Linked DNA regions of Homo sapiens: all the other regions are linked to region 2. Evidence: fine-mapped expression QTL. A gene starts in region 2. Each other region holds a variant in brackets. All regions are shown on one strand. Distances are from middle to middle.

Region 1 (5,200 bases), 26 kb before region 2:
GTCTGCTTCTTCCCAATCACAAACCCTCTTTTATCTCTTAAGTAACCACTGTGCTGGTTTCTATACTTATTAGTTCCTTTAAAAATAATTTTATTTGGCCAGGTGTGGTGGCTCACACCTGTAATCCCAGCACTTTGGGAGGCTGAGGAGGGCAGATCACCTGAAGTCAGGAGTTTGAGACCAGCCTGGCCAACATGGTAAAACCCTGTCTCTACTAAAAATACAAAAATTAGCCAGGTGTGGTGGCATGCACCTGTAATCCCAGCTACTCGGGAGGCTGGGGCAGGAGAATCACTTGAACCCAGGAGGCGGAGGTTGCAGTGAGCTGAGATTGCACCACAGCACTCCAGCCTGGGCAACAGAGCAAGACTCCATCTCAAAATAATAATAATAATAATAATAATAATTTTATCAACCAAATGGTGTATCCATAAAACTACAGCATTGCTTTGCCGAGTTAAAGAATTTAAGACTTCAAGTCTCTTTTAATCTGTAAATTCCCTCTCATCCTTTTCTTTTCCGTAGAGATAATCTCTTGGGGAACCTGGGCTCTCCCTGAGTGGTTTAGCTTCCTTCAGCTTAGAGTTTGCTGCTCACATCCTCACAGTACACTGCATTTCTCTGCCTTCTGTATTTCCAGAAATTTGGGCAGCTGGATCCAGAAACTGTATCAGATTCAGATTTGATCCCTTGGTTTGGCAAGACAATAGGAGGCATATAAAGCCCTGTTGTCTCTTTTATTGATGTTAGCAGTTGTTGATGCTTAGTGCCTACATCTAATAATTCACTGGGGATGCAAAATGGTGACATTCTATCTTTTTTATTGTTTTGTTATTTAATGGTTGTAATACTGTTCTAAGGAGATCCTTCTCCAACTGCTATCTGGTTACCCAGCAGTACAGTTCATATAGAAACGGGGATAGATGCTAGATTCTTCCTTTATTCATCAGTTTCCAAGATAATGAATTGGTTTCCTGTCATCCTCTGAGGGTGACTAGTTCTTTTTTATTGTTTCAATATTATTATGTACTCACGAATTTAAACATTATCTTTACTGTAGCTTCAAATTATTCTGACTTTGGCTAGTGCGAACCTCTTTAGGTTAGTTCTTGAGTCCTTTGGACATGATGCTAGAAGTCTTTAACATTGCTGCTTTCTGATATGACAAGATGTTCCAGGACCAGACCTGCATTCAGTCATTTCTGCAAGAAGTCCTGGTCCTTTGTCGTGTGATGTGGAACTTGAATACATAATACCAGCACTAGGAAAGCTCATTTCTCTAGACAGGTCATTGTTTCTTTTCTGTGGCGCTAAATACTCTCTCTCTCTCACACACACACACACACACACACACTCACATACACACACACTTCTGAGTGTTTCTAATTCTGATGTATTAGAACACATATTCAAATATGTTGTACACATATGCACAATTTTTTTGAGACTGAGTCTTGCTCTGTCACCCAGGCTGGAGTGCAGTGGCATGATCTCTGCTTACTGCAACCTCCACCTCCTGGGTTCAGGGGAATCTCCTGCTTCAGCCTCCTAAGGAGCTGAGACTACAGACACGTGCCACAACGCCCAGCTAATTTTTTGTATTTTTAGTGAAGATGGGGTTTCACCATGTTGGTCAGGCTGGTCTTGAACTCTTGACATCAAGTGTTCTGTCCTCCTCAGCCTCCTAAAGTGCTGGGATTACAGGCATGAGCCATTTTGCCTGGCCAGAATTATATATTTAAAAACAAAATAGCTCATGAGTCAATACTGATACTTCTAATTCAAAACTACCCCAATTTTATTTAACTTCTTCTGTATTACACCTGTAACTCCTTTCTTCTCTATCACAAATCCTGGTTCTCAAGAATACAGGGAATTATATAATTAGAATTTCTCATAATTAATAATTTCCTGAATCCCATAGTACACACACAACAGACATGGAATAAAAATACTAAAATACTAATTTACTATCAATATGATTATTTAAAACATTAAAATAAATCTTTTTCATATGTTCTCCCATTCTCTCTCCATTTTTCTTTTTTTCTTTTTTTTTCTCTTTTTGAGACAGAGTCTCGCTCTGTTGCCAGGCTGGAATGCAGTGGCGTGATCTTGGCTCACCGCAGCCTACGACTCCCTGGTTCAAGCGATTCTCCTGCCTCAGCCTCCCAAATAGCTGGGATTACAGGCATGTGCCACCACACCCGGCTAATTTTTGTATTTTTAGTAGAGACGGGAGTTTCACCATGTTGGCCGGGATGGTCTCGATCTCCTGACCTTGTGATCTGCCCCCCCCTTGGCCTCTCAAAGTGCTGGGATTACAGGCGTGAGCCACCGCGCCAGCCCTCTCTCCATTTTTCAAAAGCTGTGCTATGTATTATCAGAATATATAGTCAGGACAGTCTATACACAATCCTTTTTAGCCACTATTCAGTCTTAATTCTACAAGTTAAATTTAATCCTTGCCATCTGCCTTCACATCGGTAAGGGTCATTTTGGTTGTCTGAAGTTTTGTTCTCTGCTAAACTTCTTAGACTCATGGAAACAATATTCCCTTAGATCTTTCTTGTTGATAATAGTTTGTTTTTAATATTTGAAATCCAATTTTTCTGCAATATAAAATCCTGGATGCACCTTTTCTTAAATATGTGACTATTTTTTTTTTCTGGCATAAAGTACTGCTTTCAAAAAGTCTAATGATGATCTATTATTCTTTTCTATTCAAGTTCCATTCTCTCTCTCTTTTTATGCCCAAATAACTTTTATTTTTATTATTTATTTATTTTAGAGATTGGGTCTTGCTATATTGCCCAGGCTGGTCTCGAACTCCTGGCTTCAAGTGATTCTCCTGCCTCAGCCTCCCAACCAAGTAACATCTCTAAAGTACAGTAGTTATACTAGAATATCTCCAGGTGTTAATAACTTTTTGTCAATATTCATAAGTACATAGTGTCCTCCTGAACATGTAATTTCAAATCCTTTAATTACAATTTTAGGCACGTTTTCTTGGGTTAATTATAGTATTAATATTTCTTTTGGTCCTTCTCTTGGTTTGCTTTCTCAGGTTTTCTTGAAGAAG[G/C]CATATAATCCTTGGCTATCATTTGCAACTGTTACTTTCTCCTAAATCCTCTTTATCCCTTTCTTCATTTCTTTTTTGTTTGAAAACTTTTTAAAAATCTTATATTCCTCTTAAGGCATTATTTGTTGTTTATTCTTTCCCATGTTCCATCTAGTTTAGTTTTCATTTCTGAAGTGAATTTGTCTTTTGCTTCTTAATTATTTCTCTCACTTCATTTCTAAGTGTTTATAACGCTGATGTATTTCCATGTCTTTTATAATTTTCTTAATGTTTTTAATTGTTTTGAAATAGTAAATTACATTTTTTGGTCTATTTTGTGGGCATGACTTTTGTGTGTTTTGTTATTTTTGATCCTTATTCTCTTTTTAAAAAATTCTAACTTTGTACAGAATTTGACCTTAGTTTTAGGTGAAATTCATATTCTTGACTTTAGAATGAAGTGGGGTTCAGGAAAATTTTCTAACATAAAGTGTCTTCTTCTGTTGTTTTTGTGCAATGTACATTAAAAATATAATGGCTTACTTTCTGAGATTTCCCGTCTCTGGTTCCTTCTCCTATTTTGAACTGGACCTTCTCTTTCCTTCATCTATATTGTCTTCATCCTGCTCAGTTTTAACTCTACTTCCAGCACTTTCTCCTCATTGGGACTGTGTCTCAGAAGGAAGCCCTAGACAGCTAGCTTTTAGGGTTCATGATCCATATATATCATTGCCCAGTATTTGCCCCTCCTAGATTCAACTGCTGTTCTCAATGTTTTCCAGCAAATTCCTACTGGGGTTCTGCTATTCTCAGGTATATCAAATGCCACTCTGTTGCTTCTTTTTTCCCCTTTCCACACAGATTCCAAAATCATAAAGATCTTGAGGTTATTGGTGGTTTGTCCACATATCCACTTGTATTTTAGGGTTTTTGAAGATATCTTGTCACAGTTTTTTGTAATTGTTGTTTGCTAATATGTGGAGATTCAGTGCAAGAAAAGAGCTGTCACCACTACAATTCCCCTCATCTCTCTCTCTTCTTTTAACCTCACAAGAAACTATGATTATTTTATACAGTCAATGTTTATTTAGAATTGGCTATATATTCTTTCTTGCTTCTTCATTCCTTCTTTATCTTCTTTCTGGGACAAATTTCTTTCTGCCTTTAGAATTTTTTTTTTAATAAAAGTCCACCAGTGGTGAAGTCACAGTTTTTGTTTCTGAAAGCAGATTTTTGTTTGTTTGTTTTGCTCTTATACTTGAAAAATGTTGTCTTTAAGTATAGAATCCTTGGTTGGCAGCCATTTTTTTCATTCTACTGAAGATATCATTCCACTATCTTATGACTTCCATTCTTACAGCTGATAAGTTAGTTGTCAGTCTGTCACTCCACTAAAGGAAGTACATCTTTTTACTCTGACTCCTTTATGACTTTCTATTTATTTTAGGTGTGCTGATGTTTCACTACAATGTATCTAGATTTTCATTTACTTATCTTGCTTTGAATTCATTGTTAAATTCATTATGGAATGATTCATTATTGAATTATCAGCCATAATCTTTTAAAATAATGCCTCTGTATCATTCTCTCCCTTCTCTCTTCAGGGACTCTGCTTAAACGTATGTTAGATCTTCTCTGTTTATCTTCCATGTCTTGTAACTTCTGTTCTGTATGTTCATCTTTTTGTTCTGCATCCTGGAAAATGTCTTCCAGCATATCTTCCATCTTATTAAATTCTTTCTTTGGCTATGTCTAGAATGTTTTTACATGCATCTATTGAGTTCTTCATTTCAATTCTTGAACTTTTCATTTGTAGAAATTTTATTTAGTTCTTTTTCAAATCTTCTATCATACTCTATAGTTTCCTATTCCCTATATACATTTTTAAAGCTGTCTTTAATCTTTAAATGTAGGAAGCATATTTGTTTATGATCTGTGTTTGACAGATCTGAAATATGAAGTTCTGAAATATGAAGTCTTTAAATGTTTCTATTTTGTATTGTTTCTTATTTTCTCATTCACAATGTCTATTTTCCTATGTGCTTGATTATTTTTAGTGTATGCTGCTTTTTGTCACTAAAAACTATTTGTAGGAATAATTTGAGATCTAGAAGGAAGTACTCTCACAAGAGGATTTGT
Region 2 (5,200 bases):
TAAAGCAATCCTTGGAAGGAACCCTCTGACTCATGAAATCACTCACAGGCCTAGGGGCAGGGAGGAGCTTCTGGGAGCACCTCGGTGTAATACTGCTCTACAATAAGCCCCTAAGTGGGCAGAATCTCCTCTATTTTGTAGATGAGGAAGATGAGATTCAAAGAGCAAATCACTTTTTTTCCTCGTCCTAGTTCTCCAACATGTAAACTGGAAACAGTACTTGCCATCCACAACCGTGAAACCCAACTTTCTAGAAAGAAGCATAGAGAAAACAATCAAAAAAGAAATAGTATCTCCCCTTCCAAAACGAAAGACAAAAAACCTTTCTCGGCCGAGCATGGTGGCTCAGGCCCATAATCCCAGCACTTTGCGAGGCCTAGGCGGGCGGATCACTTGAGGTCAGGAGTTCGAAACCAGCCTGGCCAACAAGGTGAAACCCCGTTTCGACTAAAAATACAAAAATTAGCCGGGCATGGTGACGGGCGCCTGTAGAAGCAGCTACTCGAGGGGCTCAGGCAGGAGAATTGCTTCAACCCGGGAGGGGGTGGGGGCGGGGCGGAGGTTTCAGTGAGATGAGATTGCGCCTTTGCACTCCAGCCTGGGTGACAGAGACTCTGTCTCAAAACAAACACACAAATAAACAAAAAACCCTTTCTCAATCTCTAGGCCAACTAAAACGTCCACGAAAAATGTAACTAATCCATACAATTGGCTAATCGCTACCTTCCCTCCTTAACTCGCCTAAAATCAGCAGAAAAGCAACTCTAAGTCACAGCTTTTAGAGCAAGTCATAAAAGAGCGTAAATCGCCTCTAAAGTTGCCTTCCAAGAAAAGGTAGAGGAGCCTTTATGAGATTTTTTGTTCCCTACCGAGACGTGTGGCGGGAGAAAGTGGCCAGTCTGCGGCTGAGCTGCTGCTGGGGAGGGCGGGCCACCTGCGGCCAGGGCGCCTAACGGGTCGGACTGGACGTGTAGGGGCCGGAACAGCCGGTCACCGCGCCCTCCTTCCCTCGGGAAACGGGTCTCATTCTCACACCCGGCCCCGCCACATGTCCCCACAAGGAGAAGGGAAGGGGCAGGAGGTAAAGAGGCACTTTCTCAGCATCCAAGGGCGCTACTCTTGCTCCTATCCGAGCACCTCAGGGGCTGGTGGGCTTTGGGGTGTTTTGTTTCACGTGCTTTCAGATTCAGAAGGTGCACCCGCTCTGCCTGGTTTTCTGGAGATAGGGCCAAGCATGGCACCCCCTGGGGCCCGGGAAGCGACAGGCTCGGGGACGCGCGCGCTCCAGGGCCAGAAATGGCACGAAGCCCGGGCTCCGGCGACCCCGACCCGCTCCACCTCTGCGCCCCCGACCACAGCCGAGGCGTCCCGGCGCAGGGAAGGTGGCGGGGGCGGAAGGGGCGCTGGCAGTAACCCGAGCGGCCGTAAAGAATTCTCCCCCACTGTGCGGTTCCCATTTCACAGACAAGACAGCGGAGACCCTGGGAAGGCAGGGACTTCCCCACGCTCCCGCGCCTGGGAAGCAAGCCCGGGTCAGTCCCGGCGCCCGGTGTCCCCGGGGGACCTCCGAGAGAAGCCGTGACCGAGGCCGGGCGCCGAGGCCGGGGCGCGCGTGGAGTTGATGCTGGCAGTGCCTCTTCCGGCTCCCCCGAGCATTTCCTCCCCCTTCTTCCCGGGAGGGACTTAAACGCTCCCGAGGGTGAGTGCGGGGGCCCCGCCGGCCCCGCACTCGACGTCCAGGCCCCCCGCTCGCCGGTCCGCCGCTGCAGTTCAGTCCCGAGGCAACAACAGGTGCGCGGCTCGCCGCACCCCGGCGCCGGCTCCGGGGAAAGTTTCCCTGGCCGCCGCGCGCTGTTTACGGGATCCTGTTGCAGCGCGCGGGCCCGGGGCTTTCCGGCAGGTCGAGCCATTGAAACCCGAGACGCGGGGAGGAGCTGTCGCTGCGCTCCGGGAGGAACGAGGGCGGCCCTGGGCCTGGCCAGAGCGGCTCCCCTTACCTGTGACTCAACAGGCGGCCTCAGCCTCCATCCTCGGGCTAGGCTGGCGCCGCGCCCCGCCCCGGAGGCTGTCCCTGTGCCCCTGGCGTCCTCCTCCCTCTCCCATTCCTCCCCAGGGGCTGCCCCCGTTCCCCGCTCCCCGGCCCCTTCCCCTCCCCCAGGGTCACCACCCAACAGTCTTCCCAGCTACCAACCCCTGGCTCCCCAGAGAGTTTGCAAAGATTGTGGGCTCCACCTTCCCACCTGATTCGCCACCCCAGGAGAATTTACTATTTCTCTTTCATTTGTGGGGAGAAGACACCGTTAACGCCCCCACCCCCCGCTCACACGCCCACCCTCGCCGGTGCCCCGGGCCTGAACGCGGCACATGTCAACCCCCTCCCACGCCCCTTCACACTTCTATTATTTCTGTTTCTTTGGACAAGAATCATTTGCGTTAACCTTTTTTGAAAACGTTCAAGTTTCACTCCAGTAAGCTTCCTAGAAGGAAGGAGGAGGTGAGGGAGGAGAGAGAAGGAAGAGGAGGAGGAGGAGGCTTTGGCTGCAGCGGCGGCGGGGGCGGCTTTTGAGGAGGCTGCGGCGGAGGCGGTTTTGGCGACTTTGGCGGCGAAAATTTAGACAGTTGAAAAATAGGCCAAAGCACACTGAACCTGCAGGACATCCCGTAATCTTTTCTGCCCATTTCAAAGTCTTTCCCTGTCCTCACCCAACTATTACAGGCCGCTTTTGCTGAAACCTGACAATGTCATTTAGTAAATGTTCAGCTAGTATTCATTTGAAATAGAAATAACCAACAGCAGGTAATTTCTTCTTGGCCTGTTTCTGCGTGTTATCCAAGGGGAGGTGGAATACAGTGGTGGTTTTAAAATGCCAGCAGCCTAGGAACCCAAAGGCCTCAGCAGCCTGGCACCTCCCCACCCCCCTGCGGCTCTTAGGGGCCGAAAGATTGAGGGTCGTGATCAACTCAGTATACCACTGGAGGCCACGTGAGTAAGCAGCAAACTGTTTCTCATGAGAGCAGGGTGTTGGCAAACTGACAACCTGTGTCTGCCGCCCAGAAGGACTGCTGAGGGCAGTCACCACCCAGGTGCAAGTGTTTAGGATTAGACACAACTGAAGCCTGTTAGTAATGAGAACTTGTGATAATCAAACAGCTGACCAGTCTTAGGGCCTCCTCCCTGCTCATTCTCCCAATGAATGCGAAGGGCTGTGGAAGCTCGGGGGGCTGCCTTCGCTCACTAGAAGCAGGGAGCTCCCTTCTTCCCGGTTTCCCCTTCCTTTAAAACAGATTTCTTTAATCATTTCTACGTTTGTCCTTTCGTTCAGTCCTGTAATGACGGTCTCAAGTAGTAACAATAACTGTCGTAGTGACGGTCTCAAGTAGTAACGGTAATAACTGTCATAGTGACGGTCTCAAGTAGTAATTGTGGCAGTCAGCCACAGGCACACAGGACTAAAGGTTCATTAATGTCTGCTGTAAAAATGTAGAATATATTTCTTCAAGGTCTGAAGTATACATTTTTTGATGTACGTTTTTGTTACATTTTTTAAAGTTCTCTTGTTTTTAAAAAATAACATGTATAGGGCCGGGCGCGGTGGCTCATGCCTGTAATCCCAGCACTTTGGGAGGCCGAGGCGGGCGGATCACGAGGTCAGGAGATCGAGACCATCCTGGCTAACACGGTGAAACCCCGTCTCTACTAAAAATACAAAAAAAATTAGCCGGGCGTGGTGGCGGGCGCCTGTAGTCCCCGCTACTCCGGAGGCTGAGGCAGGAGAAGGGTGTGAACCCGGAAGGCGGAGCTTGCAGTGAGCCAAGATCGCGCCACTGCACCCCAGCCTGGTCAACAGAGCGAGACTCTGTCTCAAAAAAAAAAAAAAATTACATGTATAGAGCTTGAACAGTTCTTTTAAAATATGTATGTGTGTGTGTGTGTATACAGTATATATAAAGAATAATGAACTGAAAAGTTCCCTGCTTCTCATTCAACTCCTATATCCAAAGTCAGTATTAGTCAAATACCTCCTCTTTTCCTTTTAGTTTCTGAGTTTTGCGTCTCGCATGAGTATTTTGAAACTACTCCAAAACTAGAAAATAATTCTTCTAAATTTACTTCCAGTATTTTTACTGTCTTGATTTTCAGATTTGAATTTTAATCCAATCATAATTTACTGACCTATATGGCATAAGGAATGGATCTAGCTATATCTCATGGTTCCCACACCATTAAATGGTATATTCTTTCCGCTACTAATTTGAATTATCTCTTTAACTATATATTAAATTCTCATACACATTCTAGCTGTTTTATTGACAGTTTTCCTATTTCTACAACAACACTGCACTATTTTAATTACCCTAGCTTTTAGCATATATTTGGATATCTGGGAAGGCAAGCCAGTTGCATCTAGTCTTTAACATCGGTTTGCATTAACATTTTTAAAGTTTCGAATCTTCCCATTACAGAACATGGCATCCTTTGTTTTATTCGGGTCTTCTATGTTTTTTTCTTAAAGTCCCACAGTTTTCTTTTCTTTTTTCTTTTCTTTTTCTTTTTTTTTTTTTTGAGACAGAGTTTCACTCTTGTTGCCCAGGCTGGAGTGCAATGGTGCGATCTCGGCTCACTGCAACCTCCTCCTCCTGGGTTCAAGTGATTCTCCTGCCTCAGCCTCCTAAGTAGCTAGGATTACAGGCATGAACCACTACACCTGGCTAATTTTTGTATTTTTAGTAGAGATGGGGTTTCACCATGTTGGCCAGGCTTGTCTGGAACTCCTGACCTCAGGTGATCCACCTGCGTTGGCCTCCCAAAGTGCTGGGGTTACTAGCGTGAGCCACCGCGCCCAGCTAATTTTTGTATTTTTAGTAGAGAACAGGGTTTCACCATGTTGGCCAGGCTTGTCTGGAACTCCTGACCTCAGGTGATCCACCTGCCTCGGCCTCCCAAAGTGCTGGGATTACTAGCGTGAGCCACCGCACCCCGCCAGTTCCACAGTTTTCCACAAAAGGATCTCATACATTTCTTGCCAGGTTTATTCCTAGAGATTTCTGATATTTGAAGGGCATTGTGGATGGGCTCTTTTCTCCAATTACATTAGAATTAGTTATTGCTGATATATAAGAAAACTCTTAGGCCCTGAGAGGTGGCTCCCACCTGTAATCCCAACACTTTGGGAGGCCAAGGCAGGAGGATTGGTTAAGG
Region 3 (5,200 bases), 68 kb after region 2:
TCCTGTGACCCAAGAAAACAGGTATTTGAGAAGAGAACTCAGAAGAGCACGGAGGGCCCAGGAAGTACGTACAGCATGTCAGGACAGTTGTCTGGCTTGTCCAGAAGGCCGCCCTCCATGACGAAGCGAAGGACTTGCTCGTTGGACAAGCCCTGGTAGGGCTGCTCGGCCAGTGTGGCGATCTCCCAGAGGACGACCCCGAAGGACCTACAGGGAGAAAAAAACTGTGAGGAGCTTGGAAAGGGATGGACTGAACAATGCTGCCCCCTCCTTTCCAGCACTTCTTACATCCCGAGCAGATAAACTGTCCTTACTATGGTGACAGTGCTTGTCAGACAGCGAGCCAGGCCCTGGGCTAAGTGCGGGATATCATCCTCCCTCTGTTGCTGCTAATGTTCCCCGTAAACTAAATTCAGCCCCGGTGGTGGAGCTAAGGAAGGTGGTGAGGGCGCTTCCGGCATCCCTTGCACGGTCAGGAAGCCCCTGATCTGTGCTTTGAACGCAGAGCATACTGGGTTCAGCATCTACCTAGTCCCGGCCATTTATCTGGCAAGGCGGTATCACCTAACCTGGCTTTGACCCAAAAAGAATGACATTCTTGTCCAAGCCCCAGCCTGGACATTGACTTAGTAGCCTCAAATGAGGCCTGGGACAGTCAAGCTTTACCAAGCTCCTCAGGTGATTTTTACAATCAGACAATTTTGGAAACCTCTACCCAGGTGGTTCTCACTGCCGGCTGCACAGGAGAATCTCCTGGGGAGGTTTTTAAACAGAGGGCTGGGCACCCAATAGAAACTCTGATTTGATTGGTCTGGGGTGAGGGCCTGGGACCTGGAATGTTTAGAAGATCTATAGGGATCTTGAGGTCCAGTTGGGCCAAGGGAGAAGAGAACTCCTGCTGCTCCCCCACCCACAACAGAGCTGGGGAGCTGCTGGCCTGCAGGGCCTCTGTGTCACAGGTGGGGGGACCAGGGTGGGCTGCACTGGCTGGGAGGGGGTATCATGGACAAAGAATCCTTAAGCAGAGAAGTTGGCTGAGGAATAACTTTGTAGTGAGCAATTCTGCCATATGCATGCAGCTTTGCCAGTTTAGAAGATCAAACCACTGGAAAACAAAACAGAGAGTACACACACAACTTTCAGACAGAATGTTAAAAAAGACAATGCTGGAATCTGCAAAACAAATGTGCCCTCCCAGGGCAAATTCCGTAATTCACAAATTCTCCCTGACCTGTGTGCCTTTCCATGTGGTTCACTTTGGTGGAGTAAAATAGGCTACTCATCACCAAGTAGGGGCGGGAGCAGGGTGGGGAGCAGGGATTCTAGCTGGACCTGTCCTGGGCTGCAGGTGCTGGTCAAGCCACATGGAAAAACCTGGGGCAGGAGATTTCCAACCAAGAGCTCTTGGGACCTTGACCTTGTGCCCAAGCCCACAGTGCTCCTGACTGTATGAGAACGTTTTATTCGCTGCTTCAGCTACTTTCGGTGAATCAAAGATTTTTGTACAAATTGATACTAAAAGTAGATGTTAGACAGAAATAGAATCTTAGCAATCAGAGGACAGACCAACCCAAGGTCCTTTTTAATTACAAGTGACCAAGAAATGCTGTCGTCTTCATGTTGTACAAGACACCCAGAGGCCAAAAGTGCAGTTTAGAGAGGCCTGGGCCCAGGGGAGAAGGGGCTCTCCATCAGCTTTGTGCGGGAAGCTCTGCCTTCCACAACCAGCCCAGCCATACAGGCAGCATGCCTCAGATGCCAGTGGCAGTAGTACCCACACATCTGAAATGCAGCTTGGTACAAGAAATGACTAGCTCTCCAACAACAAAAAATTAAAAATAAAATAAGAAGAAATGACTAGCTCTCTGCTTTTGCTGACTGCAGGCTGGTCTGGGAAATGGCCTGAGGATGTGGCTCCCTCCCAGACCCACTTCTCCTCTTGCCCCACGTGCCCTTCCTGGCTGTGTCAG[C/T]GGCTTGCAGGCAGCCAGTTCTCACGGCACGGCTCCCACCCTGGCCCTCCCGGCCCAACTGCTCCATTCCAAGTTCCCAGTTACTGGGCTACCCACAAACTCACTGCGTCTCACACTGAACTCCGATTTGTGCCCTGTTCTTCCCCCGGCTTCCCTGCAGCTGATGCCCATTCCACCCGAGCAGTCTGCCTGCTGTCACCCATGCCCTTGGCCTCCTCGGAGTCCCACTGCGAACTGTCCACCCAGGCTCACATCTGTCCAAGGTCTGGCACCCTCCTTCCGTCCCTCAGAGCTCCCTGAGTGTGCAGGATCCTGCTTGCCTGGCCCACCACCACCTCTCCTTTGGTTACAACATCTTGCTCAATGCAGCTGTATACTCCGGCTAACAAGAACTTCAAGCACAGCTCTAATCACCCTCTGGTTCAGAAACCTTAACAGGGCTTAAAGAATTAGTCCAGGATGCCTAATACAACAGCTGAGGCCTGTCTTGATCTCTCTGCAGCCTAAGTCCCACGAGGAAACCTCACCAACCCCACCTGCAGCAGGTGCTCCCTACTGCCATGCCTGCCCAGCATTCCCACTGCCAGGAACCCCCCACCCCTGCCCCGCCCCGCCCCGCTTCCTAGTGCTCTTTTTGTGACAATCCATACTTAGGGTGCCTACACAACTTCATCTCTTCTGTGAAGAAGATGATGCAACCCCAAACTGTCAGAATTGCCTCCTCTTCTCCACAAGACTTTATCCTTCCAGGACCAGGACGACGACGACGCTGTCATCGTCGTCATCGTCATCATCGTCATCATCATCATCCCCGCATCTTCCACACCCCCAAGAGCCTTACCATCACCCACAGGCAACGATACAGGAGGTAGCAGACCTAGCTCTCCACAAACGCTTGTCGAGGTGAACTGCAAAGCCTATCTCCTGAGCAACTCTTGTCTGAGGTCAACATCACCTGCCACTGAGGACCACTGAGTGCTAGAGTCAGTCGTCCTTCACAGCTTAATGTGACAACTGCAAGGTGTGGACACTGAACCATCTCTACACAATACCAGTTGCCACAGGAGCCATTTCAACATCTATTCAGGTACCGCAGACTTCTCGAGACAGACCTTGCCTTACAGATGGAGCAACCGAAGGCCAGAGAAGCTCTGAGGTTTAACCAAGGCCACACAGCCAGTCAGAAGCACCGAGAAATATGCAACACCTCTGTGTTTTTCAAAGCCGGTATTTTACTATGTGGTGTTGGCTCTTCATGACTTCATATAAAATCAAGTCTTCCATTTCATGGACAGATTTAATCTTCAAACAGTAGATACATGTCTCTGTGTAAAGCCCTTTCTAATTAGGAACCTTGACGTTGTTTCCCCAGGGGGAAGACCGGCGGCTGTGAGTCCCCCTGCAATGCCCGTGCTGGCTGGAGGCAGCATTCAGTAACTATACTTCCCCACACCAGGAGGGGATGGTAGCAATGGCCCACTCACCAGCAAATTAAAACCTACAGAGAAATCCACATTCCCCACAGATGGTAATTAGTCATGAAAGAAGCAAATAACCTTGGCTATTTGTGACTATTTGGAAAGCTTCTTAATAAAAAATAAAGATTATGTGTTGGGTGATCCAGATGCTCGGGAAGAAGCACAGCTCTAGGCTGTGGGGTGCAGCTCCCCAGTCCTTCGTCTGGTTTCCTCCATGCCTAGAGGGCACCCTTGTCATTTCAGAGGGACATGGTGCTACAGGGAGCTGCAGGGAGAGCAGCCACAGTGCCCAAGGGCCTGGGAATGAAGTCCTGGAAGACAGCAGGAAACTTGGAGGTGTTCTGGCTAGAACAGACACACCTCTTCGATGACTCCTAGACCTATCTTATCAAGAACAGAGCAAGGTATGCAATTGTGCTACAGAGAGAAGGTCCAATGGGTGTCACACAGAGGCTGACGTAGCAGAACACGAAAGATTTGCTAAGAGCAAGGATGTCTAAAGCATGAGGCTGGCCTGCCTTTGTGAGGCAGTGAACATGGAGTCCCTGGAAGGAAACCTCTTAGCAGAAGCTCAACCAGCAGCTGTCAAAGATCTGCAGGTGCACTGGGGACTGGGCCTGACTGCAGGGATACATCCCAAATCCTAAAATTCTGGGGTCTCTTCTACAAAGCCCAATACAATTCTTAGTGTTTCTTTCTAGATTTTTAACTATTTAGGAATCATTGCTTCGTGCTGCTGAATACAATCTGAAATCATTTCCATTCTTTTGAGAGGGACAGCTTTAGTTTAGAGCCTGGACCGCTGAGAAACCTGCTCCAACGCCCTAGCCTTCCTGACCTGTGCTATCCTCAAAGCCTGTGTTAAAAAGCAAACAAAACCTGAAGCGCTGTCAATGCCTGAGCATTTCATGGAATGAATACCAAACGCCTATTCATGTTTATACATATCTTTTTGTATTGGTTCACAGTAGTTATGTAGCCAAATGGACAGAATTGGCAATGAACACACTCTAGGTCCCTTTGTTGTTGCTTGTGCAGTAACTGCTCGTCAGAATTTGGGTAAAATTTGCCCGAGAGATATGAACAACACTTTATCCTTCTATTCTGCTTCTGTTCTCCCCGGCTGTATAGTTTTCTATTTTATTATACTACAAGCTGACCTCCAAGCTCCTGGAGGCACGAAGCCTAGAATAAACAGATGCATGCACATACCCAGGCTTGCTCTCTCCTCACCATCCCAATCTCTAAACACCATGCAGAGCACTTTGATTTGACAGTGAAGAGATAACCATCTTGGACAAGCTGATTGCAAAACAGATCTCATACTTGAGCTTAAGAAGCAATCATGCTTTGCCGGGTCATATTCAAATGCTATTTCCAATTTGCACCTGTCTTCAAAATAAGATCCAAGGCCCCTGAACTGTGAAAGGTTTACGAGGTTAAAAAAAAAATGATGTCAGTCACTATTGAAATAGTTCCTCTATGCGGTCATCCAGACTGTTGGAGTAAACAACTACCATTTCTGTAACACAACAGCAACGGGATCCCCCCAGAGGAAAGCCAAGACACTAGCTGATATTCTAGAAGGTGCCTGTGCCAGGGCCTCAGCCTGCCAATAACCTCAGTTGTATTTCAGAACCTGACTGCCTCTCTGCAATGTTGCCAAGGAACTGCAATAAACAATACTACTGAGAGGCCTCTGATCCCTCGGTCGATGGGCTTCCACTGGTAGACACTGTTTATGATTAAGGG
Region 4 (5,000 bases), 33 kb after region 2:
CATCATTATTCCCTGGTTTCTGGATACTCTAATTTTGGAGCCACTACCACCTCATATTCATTCAAAAGAAATTACATGCTTAGCTCTTAAGTGCCTCAGCCTGGTGAGTCAGCAAATAAAACAAGGGTTTTTGAAAACACACCCAGGGTCAGTTGGGCCAAGACATTACGTAACTGCACTTAAAATACAGCCTAGGCAGCCAAGAGGTCAGGGCTCTTCTCATATTTGATAAACTTGACATGCAGAATAATTTCTCTTTGCCCCAAAGATGAGGTGGCCTGGTGCCTTTCTTACATGTTGCTTTAAATAATAATAATAATAATGAATAAAGAGCCGTGAATCAGAACAGTCAAAGAATTTCTAAGCTGAACGGTGCTTTAGGATGAAAGCTGAGTCCTGTTCAGGGATAGGAAAGTAACTGCAAACCTTTCCAAGTGAAAGAAAATTGTTTCTCTTGATTCTTCTTTTTTTTTTTTTCCCAAGAGAACCTTTATTCTTCCCACCAAATCCCAGGACAAAACCTTTTTCCAACCTAGGTGAATACAAACACATATATGACAGACATTTTTCCAATTAGTCCAGAGTGGGTTTGTTTTGTTTTCTTGACTAAAATGAGAAAGCCTCAGGCTGGGTGCGGTGGCTCACGCCTATAATCCCAGCACTTTGGGAGGCTGAGGCAGGTGGATCACTTGAGGCCAGGAGTTTGAGACCAGCCTGGCCAACAGGGTGAGACCCTGTGTCTACTAAAAACACAAAAATCAGCTGGGCGTGGTGGCTGGTGCCTATAATCCCAGCTACTCAGGAGGCTAAGGGATGAGAATTACTCAAACCCGGGAGGCGGAGGTTGCAGTGAGCCAAGATCATGCCCCCGCACTCCAGCCTGGGCAACAGAGCAAGACTCTGTCTCAAAAAAAAAAAAAAAAAAAAAAAAAAAAGCCTCAGATAAAAATAACCAGAGTGAGGAGGAAGGGAGACCTCAGACATCTCTCTAGTTTACACAGACCTCACCTATGATAGCCCCCAGCTCAGCGTCAACCATGTCCTGGGCACCCGCTTCAGTGGGTTATCTGAACATTGGCCTCCACGGTTGGATAACCCAAATGCACTTTCCCATGACGTCTTACACCTCCTTTTTTCAGTCTGGTGACTGTAGTGTGAGCCCCACCTTGTTAGTGGGAAGAGAAGTAACCAAGTGGTGATACACAGTTCACTCTGGCCTTGGAACAGCATGAAATAGGACTGTCCTTGCATTCTCACTTCGAAATGACACAAGAATCCACAAGAATCCACAAGAATATGGGGACTGTGTGAGTCCATGGCAAAGAGCCTGTGCTCTCATAGTCCCAGTCGCCTGCACAAGGGGCCGCACTCCAGGGAGCTCCCAAGGATCGAGGCGAGTGCAGATGGAATCCACACCTTGGTGGAGGAGACCCCACGGTCCACATGCATGGAGGGTGTCTGCTGTGGCTTCACAGTCCTCCCCACAAACACCGTGCTCCTAGTAAACGCTCAAGGAAACATATTTTTTCTGCTTATTTGGAGAAAAGTTTGCTATTCACAGACAAGTGAGTCATATGTTTAGTTCTAGCTAAACCCCAAATCCATTCCCACGTTGACAGGAAGACAAGCCAGAAAAACCAGACCAAGATGATCTTTCAGAATGACCCCCACATTTTTCCCGGATGTTACTGTGGGTCCCCCTACTTCCTACATGGCCCCCAGCAAGTCTAGAGTCCTTACCCTTTTCCAGGGTGCTAAACAGAGCAGCCTCTCCAGCTTGTTCCCTGTTTATTTTTTTAGACAAACTTTTTATTTAAAAATACGTTTATATGTACAGAAAAGTTGTGAAGATAGCACAGAATATATATTCCTCAATTCTTCCCATTATTAACCTTGTACGTTAGTATGGTGTATTTGTCACAATGACGGAACCAGTAGGAATATATTACCTTTACATAAAGTCCATAGTCTATTTGGGTTCCCTCAGTTTCCCCTAATGCCTCTCTTCTGTCCCAGAATCTCAGCCAGAACACCACATTCATAAGTCCTCGAGTCTCCGTAGGCTTGTCTTGGCTGTGGCCATTTCTCAGACTTACCTAGTTTTGTT[TGTTG/G]TTTTTGTTTTGTTTTTGTTTTTTTTTTTTTTTTTGAGACGGAGTCTTGCTCTGTTGCCCAGGCTGGAGTGCAGTGGTGCGATCTCGGCTCACTGCAAGCTCTGCCTCCCGGGTTCACGCCATTCTCCTGCCTCAGCCTCTCGAGTAGCTGGGACTACAGGCGCCCGCCAGCACGCCCGGCTAACTTTGTATTTTTAGTGGAGACGGGGTTTCACTGTGTTAGCCAGGATGGTCTGGATCTCCTGACCTCGTGATCCGCCCGCCTCGGCCTCCCAAAGTGCTGGGATTACAGGCGGGAGCCACCGCGCCCGGCCAGACTTTCCTAGTTTTTGATGACGTTGATGGTTTTGAAGAGTCTGGCCAGGAATTGATAGTTTGTTCCTCAATTGGGACTTTTCTGCTGCTTTTCTCATGATCAGACTGAGGTTAGGGGGAGGAAGACAGAGGTAAAGTGTCACTTTCATCCTGTCAGATCAAGGGCACACAGTATCAGTGTGACAGCACTGTCCATGATGACCTTGATCTTACTTGGTGGAGGGAGTGTTTGTCAGGCCTCTCTACCATACAGTTAATTTTTTTTTTTTTCCTTTTCCAGATGGAGTCTCTCTGTGTCACTGAGGCTAGTGTGCAGTGGGGGTGATCTTGGCTCAGTGCAAGCTCTGCCCCCCAGGTTCGAGCAATTCTCCTGGCTCAGCCTCCTGAACAGCTGGGACTACAGGCACATGCCACCACGCCTGGCTAATTTTTGTATTTTTAGTAGCGACGGGGTTTCACTCTTTTGGCCAGGCTGGTCTCAAACTCCTGACCTCAGGTGATCCGTCCACCTCGGCCTCCCAAAGTGCTGGGATTACAGGCGTGAGCCACTGCACCTGGCCACCATACAGTTACTTTTTGTCCCCACTTCTATCCTGTCCTCTTTGGAAGGAAGTAACTCTGCGCAGCCCACACTCGAGTGGGGGAGTTCCTCTCTGCTTCAGGGTAGAGGAGTTACATCGGTTACTGGGAGTGCAAGTGCATGAGAGAGCTGAGTCCTCCTCCTGGACCCACTTACTTATTTGTTTACTTATGTATGTAGTCATTTCATTAGATCAGGATGGACTCATGAATATTTATTTCTCATATTTTGGCCTATGGCTTGTTTCCTTTTGAAAGTCTGTCTCCTCCTGAAACCTTTTCCTCCCCCCTCCTCCCTTTACTATCCTAGGACAATGCCTCCCTGATCGTTCAGGTTTCTCTGCTCCAAGGGAAATGGCACGAGTCCACACTTTGTTTTTATGGCTGTGTGTTTAGCTGTATTAAAAGTTAGACTAAGTTGGACACTTTTCATTTATTTATTCTTTATTTTCATAAGTTTTTGGGGAACAGGTGGTATTTGGTCACATGAGTAAGTTCTTTAGTGGTGATTTGTGAGATTTTGGTGCAGCATCACCCAAGCAGTATACATGAACCCAATTTGTAGTCTTTCATCCCTCACCTGCTTCCCACCCTTTCCCATCGAGTCCCCAGTGTCCATTGTATCATTCTTATGCCTTTGCATCCTCATAGCTTAGCTCCCACTTATGAGTGAGGACATATGGTGTTTGGTTTTCCATTCCTGAGTTACTTCACTTAGAATAATAGTCTCCGAGGCAGGCAGATCACAAGGTCAGGAGTTCGAGACCAGCCTGGTCAATATGGTAAAACCCCATCTCTACTAAAAATACAAAAATTAGCCGGGTGTGGTGGCACTCGCCTGTAGTCCCAGCTACTGTGGTGGCTGAGGCAGAAGAATCGCTTGAACCCGGGAGGCAGAGTTGCGGTGAGCCAAGATTGTGCCATGGCACGCCAGCCTGGGTGACAGAGTGAGACTCTGTCTCCAAAAAAAAAAAAAAAAAAAAAAAAAAAAAAAAAAGAATAGTCTCCAATCCCATCCAGGTTGCTATAAATGCCATTAATACATTTCTTTTTATGGCTGAGTAGTATTCCATCCTATCTATATACCGCAGTTTCTTTATCCACTCATTGATTGATGGGAATTTGGGCTGGTTTCACATTTCTGCAATTGCAAATTGTTGGGCACTTATTAAATAACCACACTACTTATATATAGAAGTCTGTGCTGTGTTGCTATGTGCATGTCCTCCTGTTCTTGTACTCATCGCCTACCATATTTTATTGATGCAAAGAGCCAGGTGTTTTTTGGTTTTTTTTTTGTTTTAATTTTGGCATCCTGAAATCAGATGAATCTCACAGGCAGCTGCATCTTATGCTTTGTCATAGTTGAGCAGTACTTTTACTGTCTTGCTGGTTCGTACAGTAATGCTCGATGTTCCATCTCTGGGACTTAGATTTGATGAAATCCATCACATCCTTCCTGGGTTACGCACTCTGTCAGCATGGGAAACAGTCTGACCTGTTTATCTTGTTTCACAGAATCCAGACCAGAATCTTGAGGGCATTGGGGCTATATTTGTGCTGCCATAAATGTAATAAAAATATATATATATATATATCCTGTAGCCAGGCGCGGCGGCTCACACCTGTAATCCCGGCAGTTTGGGAGGCCAAGGTGGGCGGATCACGAGGTCAAGAGATCGAGACCATCCTGGCCAACATGGTAAAACCCCATCTCTACTAAAAACACAAAAATTAACTGGGCGTGATGGCGCGTGCCTGTAGTCCCAGCTACTCGGGAGGCTGAGGCAGGAGAATTGCTTGAACCCGGGAGGCGGAGGTTGCGGTGAGCCGAGATCATGCCACCGCACTCCAGCCTGGTGACAGAGCAAGACTGTGCCTCAAAAAAAAAAAAAAAAAAAAAATATATATATATATATATATACACAGTCTAATGCTAGAGAAAAAGACACAAATAAGTGGGGCCCTGGAAATCAGGCAGGTTACTTAGGGCAG

Evidence for each region. PIP is the estimated chance that this variant, and not a neighbour inherited with it, causes the effect.
Region 1: its variant is fine-mapped to the expression of LUNAR1 in whole blood (INTERVAL, PIP above 0.99).
Region 3: its variant is fine-mapped to the expression of LUNAR1 in whole blood (TOPMed, PIP above 0.99).
Region 4: its variant is fine-mapped to the expression of LUNAR1 in whole blood (INTERVAL, PIP above 0.99).

What each region holds. Positions count from the first base shown.
Region 1 is chr15:99,037,219-99,042,418 of GRCh38, reverse strand. No RefSeq gene overlaps it. Among named protein-coding and RNA genes, the nearest start is that of LUNAR1, 25 kb to the right of the region's middle. The variant G/C (reference allele first, on the strand shown) is at 3,083.
Region 2 is chr15:99,011,611-99,016,810 of GRCh38, reverse strand. LUNAR1 (leukemia-associated non-coding IGF1R activator RNA 1) reads right to left here and starts at 2,107. Exons shown (of 4, transcript NR_126487.1): 1 at 1,998-2,107. RefSeq lists enhancers at 919-1,048, 758-1,533, 1,899-1,998 and silencers at 1,239-1,298, 1,369-1,438, 1,659-1,738.
Region 3 is chr15:98,943,581-98,948,780 of GRCh38, reverse strand. It overlaps IGF1R (insulin like growth factor 1 receptor), which reads right to left. Exons shown (of 21, transcript NM_000875.5): 20 at 73-207. Among named protein-coding and RNA genes, the nearest start is that of PGPEP1L, 62 kb to the left of the region's middle. The variant C/T (reference allele first, on the strand shown) is at 1,971.
Region 4 is chr15:98,978,636-98,983,635 of GRCh38, reverse strand. The region is part of intron 2 of PGPEP1L (pyroglutamyl-peptidase I like); the gene reads left to right. Among named protein-coding and RNA genes, the nearest start is that of PGPEP1L, 27 kb to the left of the region's middle. RefSeq lists an enhancer at 1,510-1,559. The variant TGTTG/G (reference allele first, on the strand shown) is at 2,108.